Regions from separate parts of the Homo sapiens genome. Here region 2 is linked to region 1. A link means that fine-mapping ties the variant in region 1 to the expression of a gene that starts in the linked region. Tissue or cell type: lymphoblastoid cells. Region 1 holds a variant in brackets; the other region holds the start of a gene. All regions are shown on one strand. Distances are from middle to middle.

What was found. PIP is the estimated chance that this variant, and not a neighbour inherited with it, causes the effect.
Region 2: DLAT starts here. The variant in region 1 is fine-mapped to the expression of DLAT in lymphoblastoid cells (GEUVADIS, PIP 0.94).

The regions. Positions count from the first base shown.
Region 1 is chr11:112,113,840-112,121,945 of GRCh38, reverse strand. No RefSeq gene overlaps it. Among named protein-coding and RNA genes, the nearest start is that of SDHD, 31 kb to the right of the region's middle. The variant TG/G (reference allele first, on the strand shown) is at 3,656.
Region 2 is chr11:112,021,965-112,030,070 of GRCh38, reverse strand. It overlaps DLAT (dihydrolipoamide S-acetyltransferase), which reads right to left and starts at 4,663. Exons shown (of 14, transcript NM_001931.5): 1 at 4,320-4,663; 2 at 3,772-3,873; 3 at 1,432-1,556; 4 at 1,126-1,279. The coding sequence starts at 4,598. DIXDC1 (DIX domain containing 1) reads right to left here. Exons shown (of 20, transcript NM_001037954.4): 20 at 7,418-8,106. It also overlaps the pseudogene PPIHP1. RefSeq lists enhancers at 4,662-4,861, 5,512-5,701.

The sequences.
Region 1 (8,106 bases):
TCCAGCCATTGTGGTAATTTTATGGCAGGAAACTGGAACTCCTGGCCTTATCTGCCCCCAAGTCTAGAACTGGACCGTGCAGTTTCCTTCCAATGAAGGTGCCCTAACCTTGACGCTGAGAGTGGTAAGAGATTGGACTCTTAGAGCTTGTCCTTTCGAGAGGTTCTTGAGTCCTTTATACAAAATTTTGACCTCTTCTTTAAAGCTATGGACATTGAAGAAATTGGAAGGAAGGGAGGTACAGTTATATTCTTTCCCTAGGGCATTATAGGAAAAAAGTCACAATTCCATAGCAAAAAAAGCCAATTGAGTGATTTCCTTGAGTAATTTTTACTGTAAGTGATTTGCTGCCTCTGCTTAAAAGTCAAGAAGTAGCATCTTCTTTAAGTTCTGCCTCACCAGGCTTCCAGCTACACTTAAAATTAATTAGCTAAGAATGTAGGAAATCATCTTTCTGTGTTCTCAATGCCCAAAGTCAGCCTTGAAAGTAAAGTGTACTTCTCCTTTGCAATGACGAAAAGGAGGTATGTTTTAGAAATAGACTTTGACTAACTAGTCCTACTGACATTCTAAAGCAATCAAAATCACAATGCCCTTTTGTTTGTTTGTTTGCTTTTTGAGAGGACAGGACTGCTTCATTCCAAAACACCCATAAATTAAAATTAATTTCAAAACACCTCCAAAATAGAATAGTTTTTGCCATAGTTCTGAGTCATTTTTTAACATCTTTCTTCTTAATTGGATATTATATCCCTAATAATTCATACCTTTTTGTTTTCTGGTTTTTTTTGGGGGGGGGGTTGGTTTGGTTTGGTTTTTGGTTTTTGAGACGGAGTCTCGCTCTGTCGCCCAGGCTGGAGGGCAGTGGCGAGATCTCGGCTCACTGCAAGCTCCGCCTCCTGTGTTCATGCCATTCTCCTGCCTCAGCCTCCCTAGTAGCTGGGACTACAGGCGCATGCCATCACGCCCGGCTAATTTTTTTTTTTTTTGTATTTTTATTAGAGACGGGGTTTCACCGTGGTCTCAATCTCCTGACCTCATGATCCGCCCACCTCGGCCTCCCAAAGTGCTGGGATTACAAGCGTGAGCCACCGCGCCCTGCCAATTCATACCTTTTAAAGCATATAGAAGAGTTTGAAACAAAGTGGATTAACTACCGTGATTTTTTAAACTACAGCTATTACTACAGTACTGCCAGAGTACAATTGATTTAGCTCATCGTTGCAACTGCCCAACTGAGCAATAGGAGTGGGTTTTTCCACCCAATTTTGTGGGAAACGACCTGAAGAGAAAGTTATATTGATGTTAAGCAGCTCCACTATCCGCGTGACTAATCTTGGTTCATAAGTTTCATTGGGCCTATGACTCACTTCTCTATTTTAGATATTTATTGCCCAGGAAATAACACTGATACCATTAGAACCCGTTTCCAGTTTGAACGATGCCAAAATTACAAGTCAGCACAGGAAAAAGCTCAGCTCCTATGTGTTAATTACAACATCAATGCAAGCAAAAAAGAAAAAAGTTTGAGCTTTTGCAATCCTTCATTTATCCAGCATTTGTGACCAATGGGATGTTCTATATGTTGAGAAGGAGAAAGAGGACAGTCGACGGACCAGACCAGACTGCCCTGCTTGTCTGAGCCTTGGTGTGATCGCCAGGGGGGAATGCATATGGGGTTCAAGTTTAAGGGTCACAACCTTACATTTGTCCAGTTACCCGTATTAAAGATTAAGTGCTAGCCATGCTCTTAAGACATAGGACATAAGCCAAAATATAAATGTATTCATTTTTTATGCACACACACACACACACACACACACACAATAAAACTGTCAAATGAACAAAATTCCAGTGTCCATTAGTCAATATCCTGACTTCCCAGTTTTTTAAAAAAAGTCTCTTTAGAAACCAAGCCATTATCAGAAGTTTGCTTTGAACACATTTTATTGGCTTATGTGCCTGTCCATCAAGTCTGTGAGCTTCTGGTGTCTTTTTTTTTTTTTTTTTTTTTGAGACAGAGTCTTGCTCTGTCGCCCAAGCACGATCTTGGCTCACTGCAACCTCCACTCCCCCAGGTTCAAGCGATTCTCCTGCCTCAGCCTCCCAAGTAGCTGGGACTACAGGCATGCACCACTACGCCCGGCTAGTTTTTGTATTTTTAGTAGAGATGGAGTTTCACCATCAGCCTGTTGGCCAGGCTGGTCGCGAACTCCTGACCTCAAGTGATCCACTCACCTTGGCCTCCCAAAGTACTGGGATTACAGGCGTGAGCCACCACGCCCAGCCTCCTGGTATCTTTTTCATCTCTGTATCCCCAGGACCCAGCACAGTGCCTGGTACATAGTAGATACTTAAATATTTTTTAATATATGAGTGAGTGAATAATAAGATGTATATGAACCCATCTGCAAATTTTAAGGTGGTGTCATTAAGCTATGACAGATGAATGTACCCATCTTCACAGCAGGAGCAGTGGACTTATGAAAGCAAACACAGGAAACAGGGGAAGATGCACATGTATTAAGTCACGATTAACAGCTGGGCGCGGTGGCTCAGGCTTGTAATCCCAGCACTTTGGGAGGCTGAGGCAGGTGGATCACTTAAGCCCAGGAGTTGGGTAATGGCCGACACAGCATGGTGAAAGCCCATCTCTACAAAAAAAAAAAAAAAAAAAATTAGACGGGCATGGTGGTGTACACCTGTAGTCTCGTTACTTGGGAAGCTGAGGTGGGAGGATGGCTTGAGCCCCGGAGGTCGAGGCTGCAGTGAGCTGTGATTGTGCCACTGCATTCCAGCCTGGGCAACAGAGCAAGACCCTGTCTCAAAAGAAAAAAAAATAATTAATTTTTTTAAAATTATGTAAAAGCAAGATTAATGTTGTAATGCCAATTAATGTTTTTAGATGACATTGTGAGAGACATAAAGTACAGAAAATAAGGCTTTCAACGCATTTTAGACAACCAAAGTACATTGACGTGAAGAGGGAGAAGAAAGGAACCCTCAAAACTAAAACTTCCTACTTGTGCCACTGTGTCCACCAACTCAGAAACGTGGGCTTCTGTACCTCATGGAAAATGGCAATGTCTCCTCTCCATGGGAGGTTCTTTTAAATTTTATTTGCATTCATATTACCTTTGAGGGTGGGAATGAGGAAAAACAAAAATATGGGTTAGTCTATGAGTGAAATTTTTCCAGAGAATATTGTCAGGATCATATTACCTTGGAAAAAGATACAATAGAGGCCCATATTGATCGTGTTTAGGTGAGATGCTGAGTGTGTTTCGGTTAAAATGTACATTGAGTTGAAGATACCCTATAGTGGTTAGACCCTGACCTGGCCAGAAGAATATTTTAATCTACTAAACTTATTAGATAAAACAAAGAAGCTAAATTAAAAAGTATTGAATTCTCCAAGATTCTAAGTCACAGGAAGTAATAAACCCATACCAAATAAGCCCCTAATTCTGCAGTAGTAGCTTTGAGGGAGAGAAACCAGCTTCGAGGGAGATGAAACCAGTTTGGGGGAAAGGGAGGAGGTGCCCTGGCCACAAATTTAGCAGGGCCACCAACATAGCTGAGTCATGGCTCAGGAGGCACCTTTAATACTATGTCAACCATCTGTCACATCCATCTTTCTTTTTTTTTTTTTTTT[TG/G]AGATGGAGTCTCTCTCTGTTGCCCAGGCTGGAGTGCACTGGTGTGATCTCAGCTCACTGCAACCTCCGCCTCCCAGGTTCAAGCAGTTCTCCTACTTCAGCTTCCCAAGTAACTGGGATTACAGGTGCCCACCACCACACCTGGCTAATTTTTTTTGTACTTTTAGTAGAAATAAGGTTTCACCATGGTGGCCAGGCTGGCTTCAAACTCCTGACCTCAAGTGATCTGCCCATCTTGGCATCCCAAAGTGCTAGGATTACAGGCATGAGCCACCACACCTGGCCCACATCCATCTTTTTAGGAAAGAATATTCAGATTAGAAACAGGAAAACTGGTGGACAACAGAAAGTGCCACTCCTTTATTCCTGACGTCTAAGATATGAATTGAACTTCCTTTTAAGTGTATGGTATTTTAAAATATTTGTGTTGATTAAAAAAAAAATGTATATATATATAAAGGTCGGGTGTGGTGGCTCACGCCTGTAATCCCAGCACTTTGGGAGGCCGAGGTGGGTGGATCACCTGAGGTCAACAGATTGAGACCATCCTGGCCAACATGGTGAAACCCCGTCTCTACTAAAAATACAAAAATTAGCTGGGTGTGGTGGCTTGTGCCTGTAATCCCAGCTACTCAGGAGGCTGAGGCAGGAGAATCACTTGAACCCAGGAGGCAGAGGTTGCAGTGAACCAAGATTGCGCCACTGCACTCCAGCCTGGCAACAGAAAGACTCCGTCTCAAAAAAACAAAAACAAAAACAAAAAAAACAGATAGTGAGATGGTTTGGCTCTGTGTCCCCACCCAAATCTCATCTTGTAGCTCCCACAATTCCTGTGCGTTGTGGGAAGGGCCCAGCGGCAGACGATTGAATTATGGGGGCAGGTCTTTCCCCTGCTGTTCTCATGATAGTGAATGGGTCTCATGAGATCTGACGCTTTAAAAAATGAGAGTTGCCCTGCACAAGCTCTTTTTGCCTGCTGCCATCCATGTGAGATGTGACTTGCCCCTCCTTGCCTTCCACTGTGATTATGAGGCCTCCCCAGCTATGTGGAGCTATAAGTCCAATAAGCCTCTTTCTTTTGTAAATTGTCCAGTCTCGGGTATGTCTTTATCAGCAGTGTGAAAATGGACTAATACAGATGGCAGTTCTGACATACACTACAATGTGATGAACCTTGGGATATTATGCTAAGTGAAAGAAGCCAGTCTAAAAAAGACAAATACTGTATGATCCCACTTATATAAGGCTTGGAATAGTCAAATGGATAAAAACATAAAGTAGAATGGTGGTTGCCAGAGACCAGAAGGAGGAGGAAATGGGGAGTTTAATGGGTACAGCATTTCAGTTTTGCAAGGTGAAAAGAGTCCTGGAGCTGGATGGTGGTAATGGTCATATGGCATTATGAATGTATTTAATACCATTGCATTGTACACTTGAAAATGGCTAAGATGGTAAATTTTATGTTATTTATATTTTAACACAATAAGATTGGAAAAACAACTTTTATTATAAAAAGTTTAAAACTTGCACAAATACTCATCATCCAGCTTCAACAATTATCGACATTTTGCTTATCTCATTTCTTCTATTTCTCCACTCCCCCCTTATTTCCCTTATAGATTTTTAGGTGTTTTTTTTTTACTTGCATGGTCTAATTATGATCATGTCATCCAAAAATCCTGCTGTATTGTTATTTTTTCCCTATATTTGTTCCTCATTTTTTTAAGAATCCAATGATTCTATGGTTAGTATCTCTGTTAAACAGAAATGAGGGAGGACAGGAAACATTCTTGCTTTATCTTAGGCTTTTTTTCCTTTTTTTGTTTTGAGACAGAGTCTCACTCTATTGGTTAGGCTGGATTGCAGTGGCACAAATCTCGGCTCACTGCAACCTCCACCTCCTGGGTTCAAGTGTTTCTCCTGCCTCAGCCTTATGAGTAGCTAGGACTGCAGATGTGCACCATCACGCCTTGATAGTTTTTGTATTTTTAGTAGAGACAGGGTTTCACCGTGTTGGCCAGGCTGGTCTCGAACTCCTGGCCTCAAGTGATCCACCCACCTCGGCCTCCCAAAGTGCTGGGATTACAGGTGTGAGCCACCGTGCCTGGCCTATTTTATCTTAGTTTCGATGAGCTTATCTTTGCTATTTAACAAATGCTGGCTCTTTGTTCTATGCATGTGCTCCTTTTAAGTTCAGACAAACAGGAACATTCAGCAAAGTTTTTCACTCAGTACTGGTGCGGGCATCAGGAGATATACATGTTGACACATATCTATTTCTGTTGGCTTTCTGGAAATCAACTGCATGACATAACCAGGACTTTTTAAAGGCTCATGATGATTTACCTAGAAATTCCTATTCAAGACTCTATCTTAAGGAAATAATCAGAGATGCAGTCAAAGATTGATGTATATCATTTTGAATAGCAATGGAGTACTCATGTTATATTTTTGACCACCCAGAGGCCATCCCCAGCCCCTTTCTCCCTTGTTAATGCAGAGACTGAGAACAGCAGACACTCGTTTCCCTAAGCCTTTACAGCAAGAGGTGGCCAAATGTGCCAGCTCTGATCAATGAACTCTAAAAAGAAGTCTGCAGGGAATGATGAAAAAGATGTTCTGACGACCAAGGCTTTTACTGCCCTACCTGCAACCCTGCTTCCTGCCTTTGAATCAATCAAAGGAGAATGTGGTACTTGAAGCCATTCCAGCTGTACTGTGACCACAAATTGACGAGCCTAAAAGTGACAGGCCAACATGCTGAGGATGAGAACAGAGAGGCAGAAAGAACTTTAGTCTGAGATGACATCCTTAACCGCTGCATCAAAACTGGACCTGCCTACCCAGACATCTTTTTCTATGAGCGATTCTGTGGTAGTACTCTTTTAATGGGAGATAGTGGGTGTGTATTCTTCTGCTTGCAGCCAAAAGGAAACCTACCTTATATGTATGAATATCCTACAATTTATTTAATTGGTCCTCTAGTTACACATTTAGCTTGATTCGATTTTCTTTTCTATCAGAAGTAACAATGTTGATGAATGTTTTTGAATATGCATCTTTGTCTTTTCGTGAGCATTTTTTTTGGTCTTTGTCTTTATCCTCTGCATCTGAGAAATTTATTTATTTATTATTTTTATTTATTTATTTATTTTGAGACGGAGTTTCACTCTGTTGCCCAGGGTGGAGTGCAATGGTGCGATCTCCACTCACTGCAAACTCCACCTCCTGGATTCAAGCGATTCTCCTGACCCAGCCTCCCAAGTAGCTGGGATTACATGTGCCCACTACCACACCCAGCTAATTTTTTGTATTTTTATTAGAGACGGGGGTTTCACCATGTTGGCCAGGCTGGTCTTGAACTCCTGACCTCGGGTGATCCGCCTGCCTCGGCCTTCCAAAATGCGGGAATTACAGGCATGAGCCACCGTGCCTGGCCTGAGAAATTTATTTACATTTGTCTTCCTTTGCTAATTTTAATTTGACAGAATTAATTTTGCTTTTTTACTCCTTATCCTGTGTTTTTCATTTCCTTTCAACCCTTCCTTTTCTTTTTCCTCTTTCATCACACCTAGTTTATCTTCCATCTTAGCCTACCTTCATCTTCTTCTGTTACAGAGCTCATGACTCACTCACTTCCACTTAAGATACCCAACAATTTCCTAGAACTTTTTCCTGGCTTCCGCAAAAAATCATTTGGACCTATGCAAAACTTCTGAACCTCTATTATACTTTTTTCTTTCACTTGTTTTATAGTTTTGTTTTGTTTTTTTAATAGGTCCCATGCTGATTTTTTTTTCTCCGTGCTCAATTTTGAACAGGGTGATAGCTATTCAGATTCAGTGTTTGTTACCAAGCAGAGTGAGTGAGGATTTCCTTTGGTTCTGCTTTCTGTCTGATAGCTGGATGGTTGAATCCTCCTTTAAAATCTGTACCTGCAGCCTTGGCAACATAGCAAGATCTACCTCTACAAAAAATACAGAAATTAGCCCAGCGTGGTGGTGTGCACCTGTAGCCCTAGCTACTTGGGAGGCTGAGCCAAGAGGATCACGGGCGCCCAGGAGTTCAAGGTTACAGTGAGCCATGATTGTGCCACTGCACTCCAGCCCAGGTGACAGAGCAAGAACCTGTGTCAATCAATCAGTCAAAACAAATAAAGTCTCTATCTGGAGGGCAGGTCATGTGCATGTGTCCCAGCCTCATTCCCAGTTTCTAGCCATTTTTCACTTGGTGTACTTCGGCTCTGCTGAAGCTGCATCTCCCTTTTGCTTCTATTTCCTGGTTTTCTGTTAGTCTCAGCTAATCTACTACATGAGGAATTGTGATTTTTTAAAAATGGAGCCCTAGTAAGATTTTCCTTGTTCTCTCCCCTAACTCTAAATCACACCAGGGTTACACTTGAATTCTGGTTAGTTTCCCCAAACTTTCTGCCCAACAGTTTTTTGATTTG
Region 2 (8,106 bases), 92 kb after region 1:
TTTAAACTTAGACACTCAGCTCCAGGCCTGCTTTCCACGGCAAACAGCGGTCCCAGTACAAATGGCTGTCAGTTCTTTATCACCTGCTCTAAGTGTGATTGGCTGGATGGGAAGCATGTAATGTTTGGAAAAATCACTGATGGACTTCTAGTGATGAGAAAGATTCAGAATGTTCCCACAGGCCCCAACAATAAGCCCAAACTACTGTGGTGATCTCAAAGTGCGGGGAGATGTAGTCCAGACCAAGACTGAATTAGGCCTTCCCTTCTTGGTGGTGTTCTTGAGTAAGATAATCTGGACTGGCCCCTGTGTTTGCTTCCCTGCCTGCTGCTGCCCCATTTGATCAAGAGACCCTGGAAGTACTGGAGATTCAGAATCCAAGACTGTGTAAATAAAGTTTTTTTGTATGTGGAAAAAAAAAAAAAGAAATATGATCCCCAATGTTAGAGATGGGGTCTGGTGGCAGGTGTCTGGGTATTGGAGGAGGATCCCTCGTGAATGGCTTGCTGCATGCCCCATGGTAATGAGTTAAGGGGAAATCTGATTGCTATAAAGAGCCTGGTTACCCACTCCCCTCTGTCTCTTGTTCCCTCTCTCATGGGACACACCACCCTTCCCCTTTCCCTTCCAACTTCCACCATGATTGTAAGCTTCCTGTGGCCACAAGAGAAACAGATGCTGGCGCCCTGCTTCTTGTACAGCCTGCAGAACCTTGAGCCAAATGAACCTTTTTTCTTTATAAATTACCCAGCCCTAGGTATTTCTTCATGCCAAAGTAAAACAGACTAACACAGCCTGCTATAAACTCTAATTATACAGGGAATAGATGTTAGTAAAAATCATCCTCAAAATCTGTAATGTAATGTTCTTGAATGAAAAGTGCCACGCATTACCCTGTGTACTACACTGAGGCTGAGAAAGGTTACAGGAACTGTTCAAGTTCTTATAACTGGAAATAACAACCAGGAAGAATAGTTGTCAATCTTCATGTTTAAACCTATATACTCCCAAATGACAAGACCTAACCACATTTAATGTCAGTTTCCAAGATGTAGTAGCCATCTATGAAAAAAAGTGAGTAAGTAAGTAATCACCTAGAGCAAAAACTCAGAGGCTGAGCCTCACCTGCATGTGAGGGGGATATGAGCTACCAGGAGCCTGAGCAGAAGGTGTAGGTGGCGAAGCAGTGGCAGCAGGGGTTGGTGCTGGGGCCGCTTGTGGGGTAGGTGCTGCTGAGGAATCCAGTGTATAATTTTTAAAGGCCTCAATATCCTCAGGCCTAAGGAAGAGAAAGAATGCATAAATATAATGGGCAGATTCAGCTTTCACAAAAGTAGTCTTAAAAAATAGTCTTTAACTCCTAATTCTCAATTCTGGGTAAAATACTCCACCAAGCAATGAAGTTCCACAAATTATGAGCGCACTACTCACTTGCCAACTGTGATACAGATGATCGCTCCGATGGGAACATCCCTGGTACCTTCAGCAACAAGTATCTTTGCCATATAACACTCCTCCAGGCTCTCAAATCCAACAGTGGCTTTATCAGTTTCAACCTTTTAACACAAAAAGCAGTAGCTCAGGTTTGTACTGTTGGTATGTAATTTATTAGCTTGTGTCTAGAATTTTTTTTTTTTTTTTTTTTTTTTTGAGACACAGAGTCTCATTCTGTCACCAAGGCTGGAGTGCAGTGGTGCAATCTCGGCTCATTGCAACCTCCCCCTCCCAGGTTCAAGCGATTATCCTGCCTCAGCCTCCCGAGTAGCTGGGATTACAGGAACAGGCTGCCATGCCCGGCTGATTTTTGTATTTTTAGCAGAGACGGGGTTTCACCATGTTGGCCAGCCTGGCCTTTGTGTCTAGAATTATACAGTTCATGTGAAGATAAGGCCACTACGACAGATTTCAAAGAAGAAATTACTTTAGAAACGCCTTGGTTAAAATCAGTTTGGCCAGCTGCTGACAACTTATCCAACCAATCTTGTCTAACATCAAGTTGTGAAAAACACTTCAGTTTCTTAAACAAAGGGGTAGCTACACATCCAGAAAGTCAATGTTCAGTCAATTAGGCAAAGCCAGTCTCTTCGAACTCATCTCCGTTACTTTAAAACAACTTACCCTCTCCCTCTCCCTCTCCGTCTCCCTCTCCCTCTCCCCACGGTCTCCCTCTCCCTCTCTTTCCACGGTCTCCCTCTGATGCTGAGCCGAAGCTGGACTGTACTGCTGCCTTCTCGGCTCACTGCAACCTCCCTGCCTGATTCTCCTGCCTCAGCCTGCTGAGTGCCTGCGATTGCAGGCACGCGCCGCCACGCCTGACTGGTTTTCGTATTTTTTTGGTGGAGACGGGGTTTCGCTGTGTTGGCCGGGCTGGTCTCCAGCTCCTAACCGCGAGTGATCCGCCAGCCTTGGCCTCCCGAGGTGCCGGGATTGCAGACGGAGTCTGGTTCACTCAGTGCTCAATGGTGCCCAGGCTGGAGTGCAGTGGCGTGATCTCGGCTCGCTACAACCTCCACCTCCCAGCCGCCTGCCTTGGCCTCCCAAAGTGCCGAGATTGCAGCCTCTGCCCGGCTGCCACCCCGTCTGGGAAGTGAGGAGCGTCTCTGCCTGGCCGCCCATCGTCTGGGACGTGAGGAGCCCCACTGCCTGGCTGCCCAGTCTGGAAAGTGAGGAGCGTCTCTGCCCGGCTGCCATCCCATCTAGGAAGTGAGGAGCGCCTCTGCCCGGCCGCCCATCGTCTGAGATGTGGGGAGCGCCTCTGCCCCGCCGCCCCGTCTGGGATGTGAGGAGCGCCTCTACCCGGCCGCGACCCCGTCCGGGAGGTGAGGAGCGTCTCTTCCCGGCCGCCCCGTCTGAGAAGTGAAGAGACCCTCCGCCTGGCAACCGCCCCGTCTGAGAAGTGAGGAGCCCCTCCGCCCGGCAGCCACCCCGTCTGAGAAGTGAGGAGCCCCTCCGCCCGGCAGCCACCCCGTCTGGGAAGTGAGGAGCGTCTCCGCCCGGCAGCCACCCCGTCCGGGAGGGAGGTGGGGGTCAGCCCCCGCCAGGCCAGCCGCCCCGTCTGGGAGGGAGGTGGTGGGGCCAGCCCCCCGCCCAGCCAGCCGCCCCGTCCGGGAGGGAAGTGGGGGGGTCAGCCCCCGCCTGGCCAGCTGCCCCGCCCGGGAGGTGAGGGGCGCCTCTGCCCAGCCGCCCCTACTGGGAAGTGAGGAGCCCCTCTGCCCGGCCACCACCCTGTCTGGGAGGTGTACCCAACAGCTCATTGAGAACGGGCCATGATGACAATGGCGGTTTTGTGGAATAGAAAGGGGGGAAAGGTGGGGAAAAGATTGAGAAATCGGATGGTTGCCGTGTCTGTGTAGAAAGAGGTAGACATGGGAGACTTTTCATTTTGCTCGGTACTAAGAAAAATTCTTATCCTGTTGATCTGTGACCTTACCCCCAACCCTGTGCTCTCTGAAACATGTGCTGTGTCCACTCAGGGTTAAATGGATTAAGGGCAGTGCAAGATGTGCTTTGTTAAACAGATGCTTGAAGGCAGCATGCTCCTTAAGAGTCATCACCACTCCCTAATCTCAAGTACCCAGGGACACAAACACTGCGGAAGGCCGCAGGATCCTCTGCCTAGGAAAACCAGAGACCTTTGTTCACTTGTTTATCTGCTGACCTTCCCTCCACTATTGTCCTATGACCCTGCCAAATCCCCCTCTGCGAGAAACACCCAAGAATGATCAATAAAAAAAATAAATAAATTAATTAAAAAAAAAAAAAAAAACTTACCTCTGCAATTAGGTCACCTTCATTGATTTTGTCCCCCTCTTTTTTTTCCCAACGGGCTATGGTGCCTGCCTGCATTGTGGGGGAAAGAGAAGGCAATGGAACCTGGAAAAGGAAAAGAAGAAACATTAAAATTTTTAAGGACTACCTAACTCTCAGTCTGGCTTAAGATTTCATTCAATTCAATTTCATGCAAAGTGTATACAGTTCCATTGCACATTGGGAACTAGGGATGCCAAGGGAGTTCCTGTCCATGAGAAGTTAGTAATTTCCAGTGACAGGCTTTCTCCTCCACAGTCCTGTGGGTCTGACAAAGCATGAACCTCGGCAGATATTCTGCATACAGCCCCAGTCTTGAAGCTCTCCTTTCAATGAAATAGATCATGAGAGGGACACTAAGGAGCTACAGCAAAGCCAACTATTGGACAAAGGGCCAAAGCAGATACTGGGAATGGGTGGAGGATCAGTGAGGCCTCTCAAGGAGGATCTTGCAGGCATCCAGTCAGCTCTGAAGGACAACGGGGTCCCGAGAAGGGGGGTCTAGGGCTCACCTTCTGATGCGGGGGAAGACTGTAATAGCGGCGGCCGGGCGACCCCAAAAGCTGCAGCAGTAAGCGGTTCCGCGGCGTGGCCCCAGAACTGGGGGTCCAGCCGCACAGTGCCCGGACCCCGCCATACCCTGTAGTCACGCTGTTGCGACGAGCGGGAGCCGGGCCAGATCGCGAGGTCACTCGTGGAGTTCCGGGTACCTCCTGCAAGGCCGTCCACCGAGCCTCGAGTCCCGCCCATGGGGCTACATTCTGAGCCCGTCGCGCACAGACGCGCCACATAGTGCCACCAACCCCCCACACCCCAAAACCAACGCCGTCTCCGGAGTGACCTCTCCAAGAGCAGCGGCGTTGCCGTCAGCCACACCGCACAGCCGCACGTTGTCGTAAAATGGTTCCCGCAGGTTTACTCCACCCGCTCCCCAGGCCAGAAATGCGCGGCACGCACGCTCTTTCTCTACGGAGCGGGGACGAGGGGCACTACGGGGCAGGAGTGTTCCAGAGGGGCCTGTGCGGGCGCAAGTTTGGGAGAAATAACAGACGGAAAGGGGTGGAAAGTGGTAGGGTTCTAGGGGAGGCATCCGAAAGGGTGAGACGGGGCCTAAGAGATGACAAGGGCACGACCGAGGGGGAGGGGCCTAAAAAGGCGCAGAGACGCGGGTTAATTGCGGCCGAGTGGCCTGAGAGTCTGGGCCGAGGGGCGTGGCCAAGCTTTCTGGAAAAGCTGGAAGTGAGCCCGGGAACTGGCTAGGGCAGTGGGAGCCTCAGGCCAAAGGGCGGGGGTCTTGGAGTGCTGGGGTGGTGAAGGAGCCAGGAATCGCCCGCGAGGGAATCGAGGGGTCCGGCGTGGTGACCTCTGCTTCTGCGCATCCGAAGGGGGATGGACTGGGCCGCGCCCCGCGCAGGCTGTACTGGTTGCAAAGATTTCGTTTCAGGTTTGTAGCCCAAGTGGAAAGTGGAGTGAACAGGTGTTCCACCCAGCCAAGTGGTAACGAAAGGCAGCCCAGAGGAAGATACATTCCCGCATTCATGTATACTGTAGCAAGATTAAGCATATTCCCTGTATGAAGATATAGGTTTACAAAACAGGTGTTGCTCCCTAATACCATAGAATTCTTTTAAGTAACCAAAAGCTTCGTTATGTTTCAAATGTTTGAAAAACTTAACTGTAAGCCGTTGAAGGCATGAAGAGTGTCTGCGTGGTCCTTCCATGTAGCCCCAGAGCTTAATATCCAGTAAATAGCGGGGGCTGAATGTATGTCTTTTGAATCAATGAATAAAAAGTCATCTACACATTTTGTTAGGCACGCTTCTCTTGTAAAGTTGTCTTTTAATTAGAAAACATATCGTTTCTGAACTGAAGGTGACATTAGATAAGGAGGAAGCATGTGCTGTGTATCACCACCTCCCCCCTGTAGAGATGGTTAGAGAACACCAAGAACGCAAGAGGAAGTTGGAGGGAAGAAACTTAAAACAAGATTTTAGCCAGGAGCGGTGGTGCATGCCTGTAGTCCCAGCAATGCTTGAGAGGCTGAGGTGGGGGAATCACTTGAGCCCAAGAGTTTGAGACCAGCCTGGGCAACATAATGAGACTCCCATCTGTTAAAAAAAAAAAAAAATGGGGGCTAATCTTGCTAACAATTAATTTGGAAAACTAAAACAGATTGGATGTACTATTTCATGCCTACTTAAATTGGAATGTTTAAGCAGGTACAGCTGTCTATCAGAATAATATGTAAGCAATATAATTGAGAAATATAAAATTTCTAGATTGAATGAAAAGGCATATTTTAAATAATATGAAGAGAGCAATTATATTGTTACAATTATGTACAACTTATGAATTAACAATTGGAAGAAGCAATGAAAGAATAATTGTAATTACTGAAAGGACTTATTACTATTATTTGGGGATGGAGTCTCACTCTGTCGCCCAGGCTGGAGTGCAGTGGCATGATCCCGGCTCACTGCAACCTCCACCTCCCAGGTTCAAGCGATTCTCCTGCCTCAGCCTCCCGAGTGCTGGGATTACAGGCACGTGCCACCATGCCCAGCTAATTTTGTGTTTTTAGTAGATACGGGGTTTCACCATGTTAGTCATGCTGGTCTCAAACTCCTGACTTCAGGTGATCCACCTGCCTCGGCCTCCCAAAGTGCTGAGATTACAGGCGCGAGCCACCATGCCCGCCCAGGACTTATAAATTATTATAAAAATGTTTTTGAGTTGGCTAAAATATCTTGCTGCTTTTGCTGCATTTGAACTTAATAACTGGATCTAAATTAGACTTTGGTATAAAGTATGAGGTGATCTTCCGGATCTGTTGTGCACTTAGGTATGCTTGCTTAAACCCTGTTTTGCATTTTTCAAAGAATAGCGAGTTTGTGTCTTGAATATACTTTTGACTTAAGTGTAGTTAAATTATAGGAATGCATAGCTCAAACAGTCCAGAGATGGCGAGCTTACCCCAGAGGTGGGCTAGGAATGCTTAGGTTTCTCAAATCAGTCCTGAGAGAACAAGCTTGAATTCCACTAAACAGACTGGATAAAGGAAATTATGGAAAAGGAGACTCAAGACTCAAAGGTTTGAAATAGAGATACTTAAGAGAATGGTGATATCACTGATATTGAGAGAAACAGAAATTAGTTGGTAGTGAAAGATTTTGAGTTATGTACATATTTAATTTTAACATAATGGGATAGCCAATTAATAGTTGAAAATACGTAATTGGAAGTCAAATGAAGGCACTCAGGGATAAAGAATTTAATATAGCAAACATTTAAGATGAATTGATAAGAGGCATTTAAGAGGCAGCTTTCAAATGATCTGGGAATTCTGGTCATTTTAAATACACATTTCTGAAAGAGTTCTTAATGCTTGCATACTGACTTTTGTCATAGAGTTTATACTCTTGGGTTCTTATTTGTTTGCATGTTTACATATAATTTCAAAATAAGTGCTAAATAAATTGTCCTTGATAATAGCCTATGTGCTTACATAGAAATACTAATTGTAAAATATCTGTAGCAATAAAGTAATTCTTATCTCCACTCCACATAGTGAGTAAACATGCTACCAGGGAGATCACTTGAGGAAATTTGCTTTCACTAAATGTAAATGGCTTTATTGATTAATCTCATCAGTAAACGCAAGTGAAAATCATTAATGATATTTAGTTTGCAAACCCCATTTTATTCATAGTTTGTGGTTTTTTAAATTAGTTCACAAATCTGGTACATACCGGCAGTTAAAACTGGTTATCACTTTGATAATCAGAAGCCTCTGGTGTAACATAGTCTTCATGAAAACATATTGTAAAACAGGGAGAATACACAGTAATAATCTCTTTGAAAGCAATGGCTGTAAACATCCATGTTTCTAAGAAAATATAACTTTACATATATATGTATTTTAAGCAAGCTATACCTCTTACATAAATTCAGACAGTAGAAGGAGTGTGCAATCATAATGCTTATTTTATGGAAACAGTGAAAATAATTTTAATTATGACCTAAATGCTTTTAAGTAATTAAAGTCCTCTTGAATTGGATGTATAGTATAAAGATATTTTCCCTAATTTGCAACCATCCTGGTCAAAAAGAGCTGAAAAGTTGGTCAGTAAGTAGAAGTGCCATTACCAAGTAAGTTTAAAACAAATTCTTCAAATTTAAAAATGTAAAAATTGTAAAGTATCCCAATCCCCCCAGCTAATTTAGGGAACTGAGCAAGAAGAGAACATTCTTCAGTTTTTAAATGACTTTTTTTTTTTTTTTTTTGGAGATGGGGTCCTG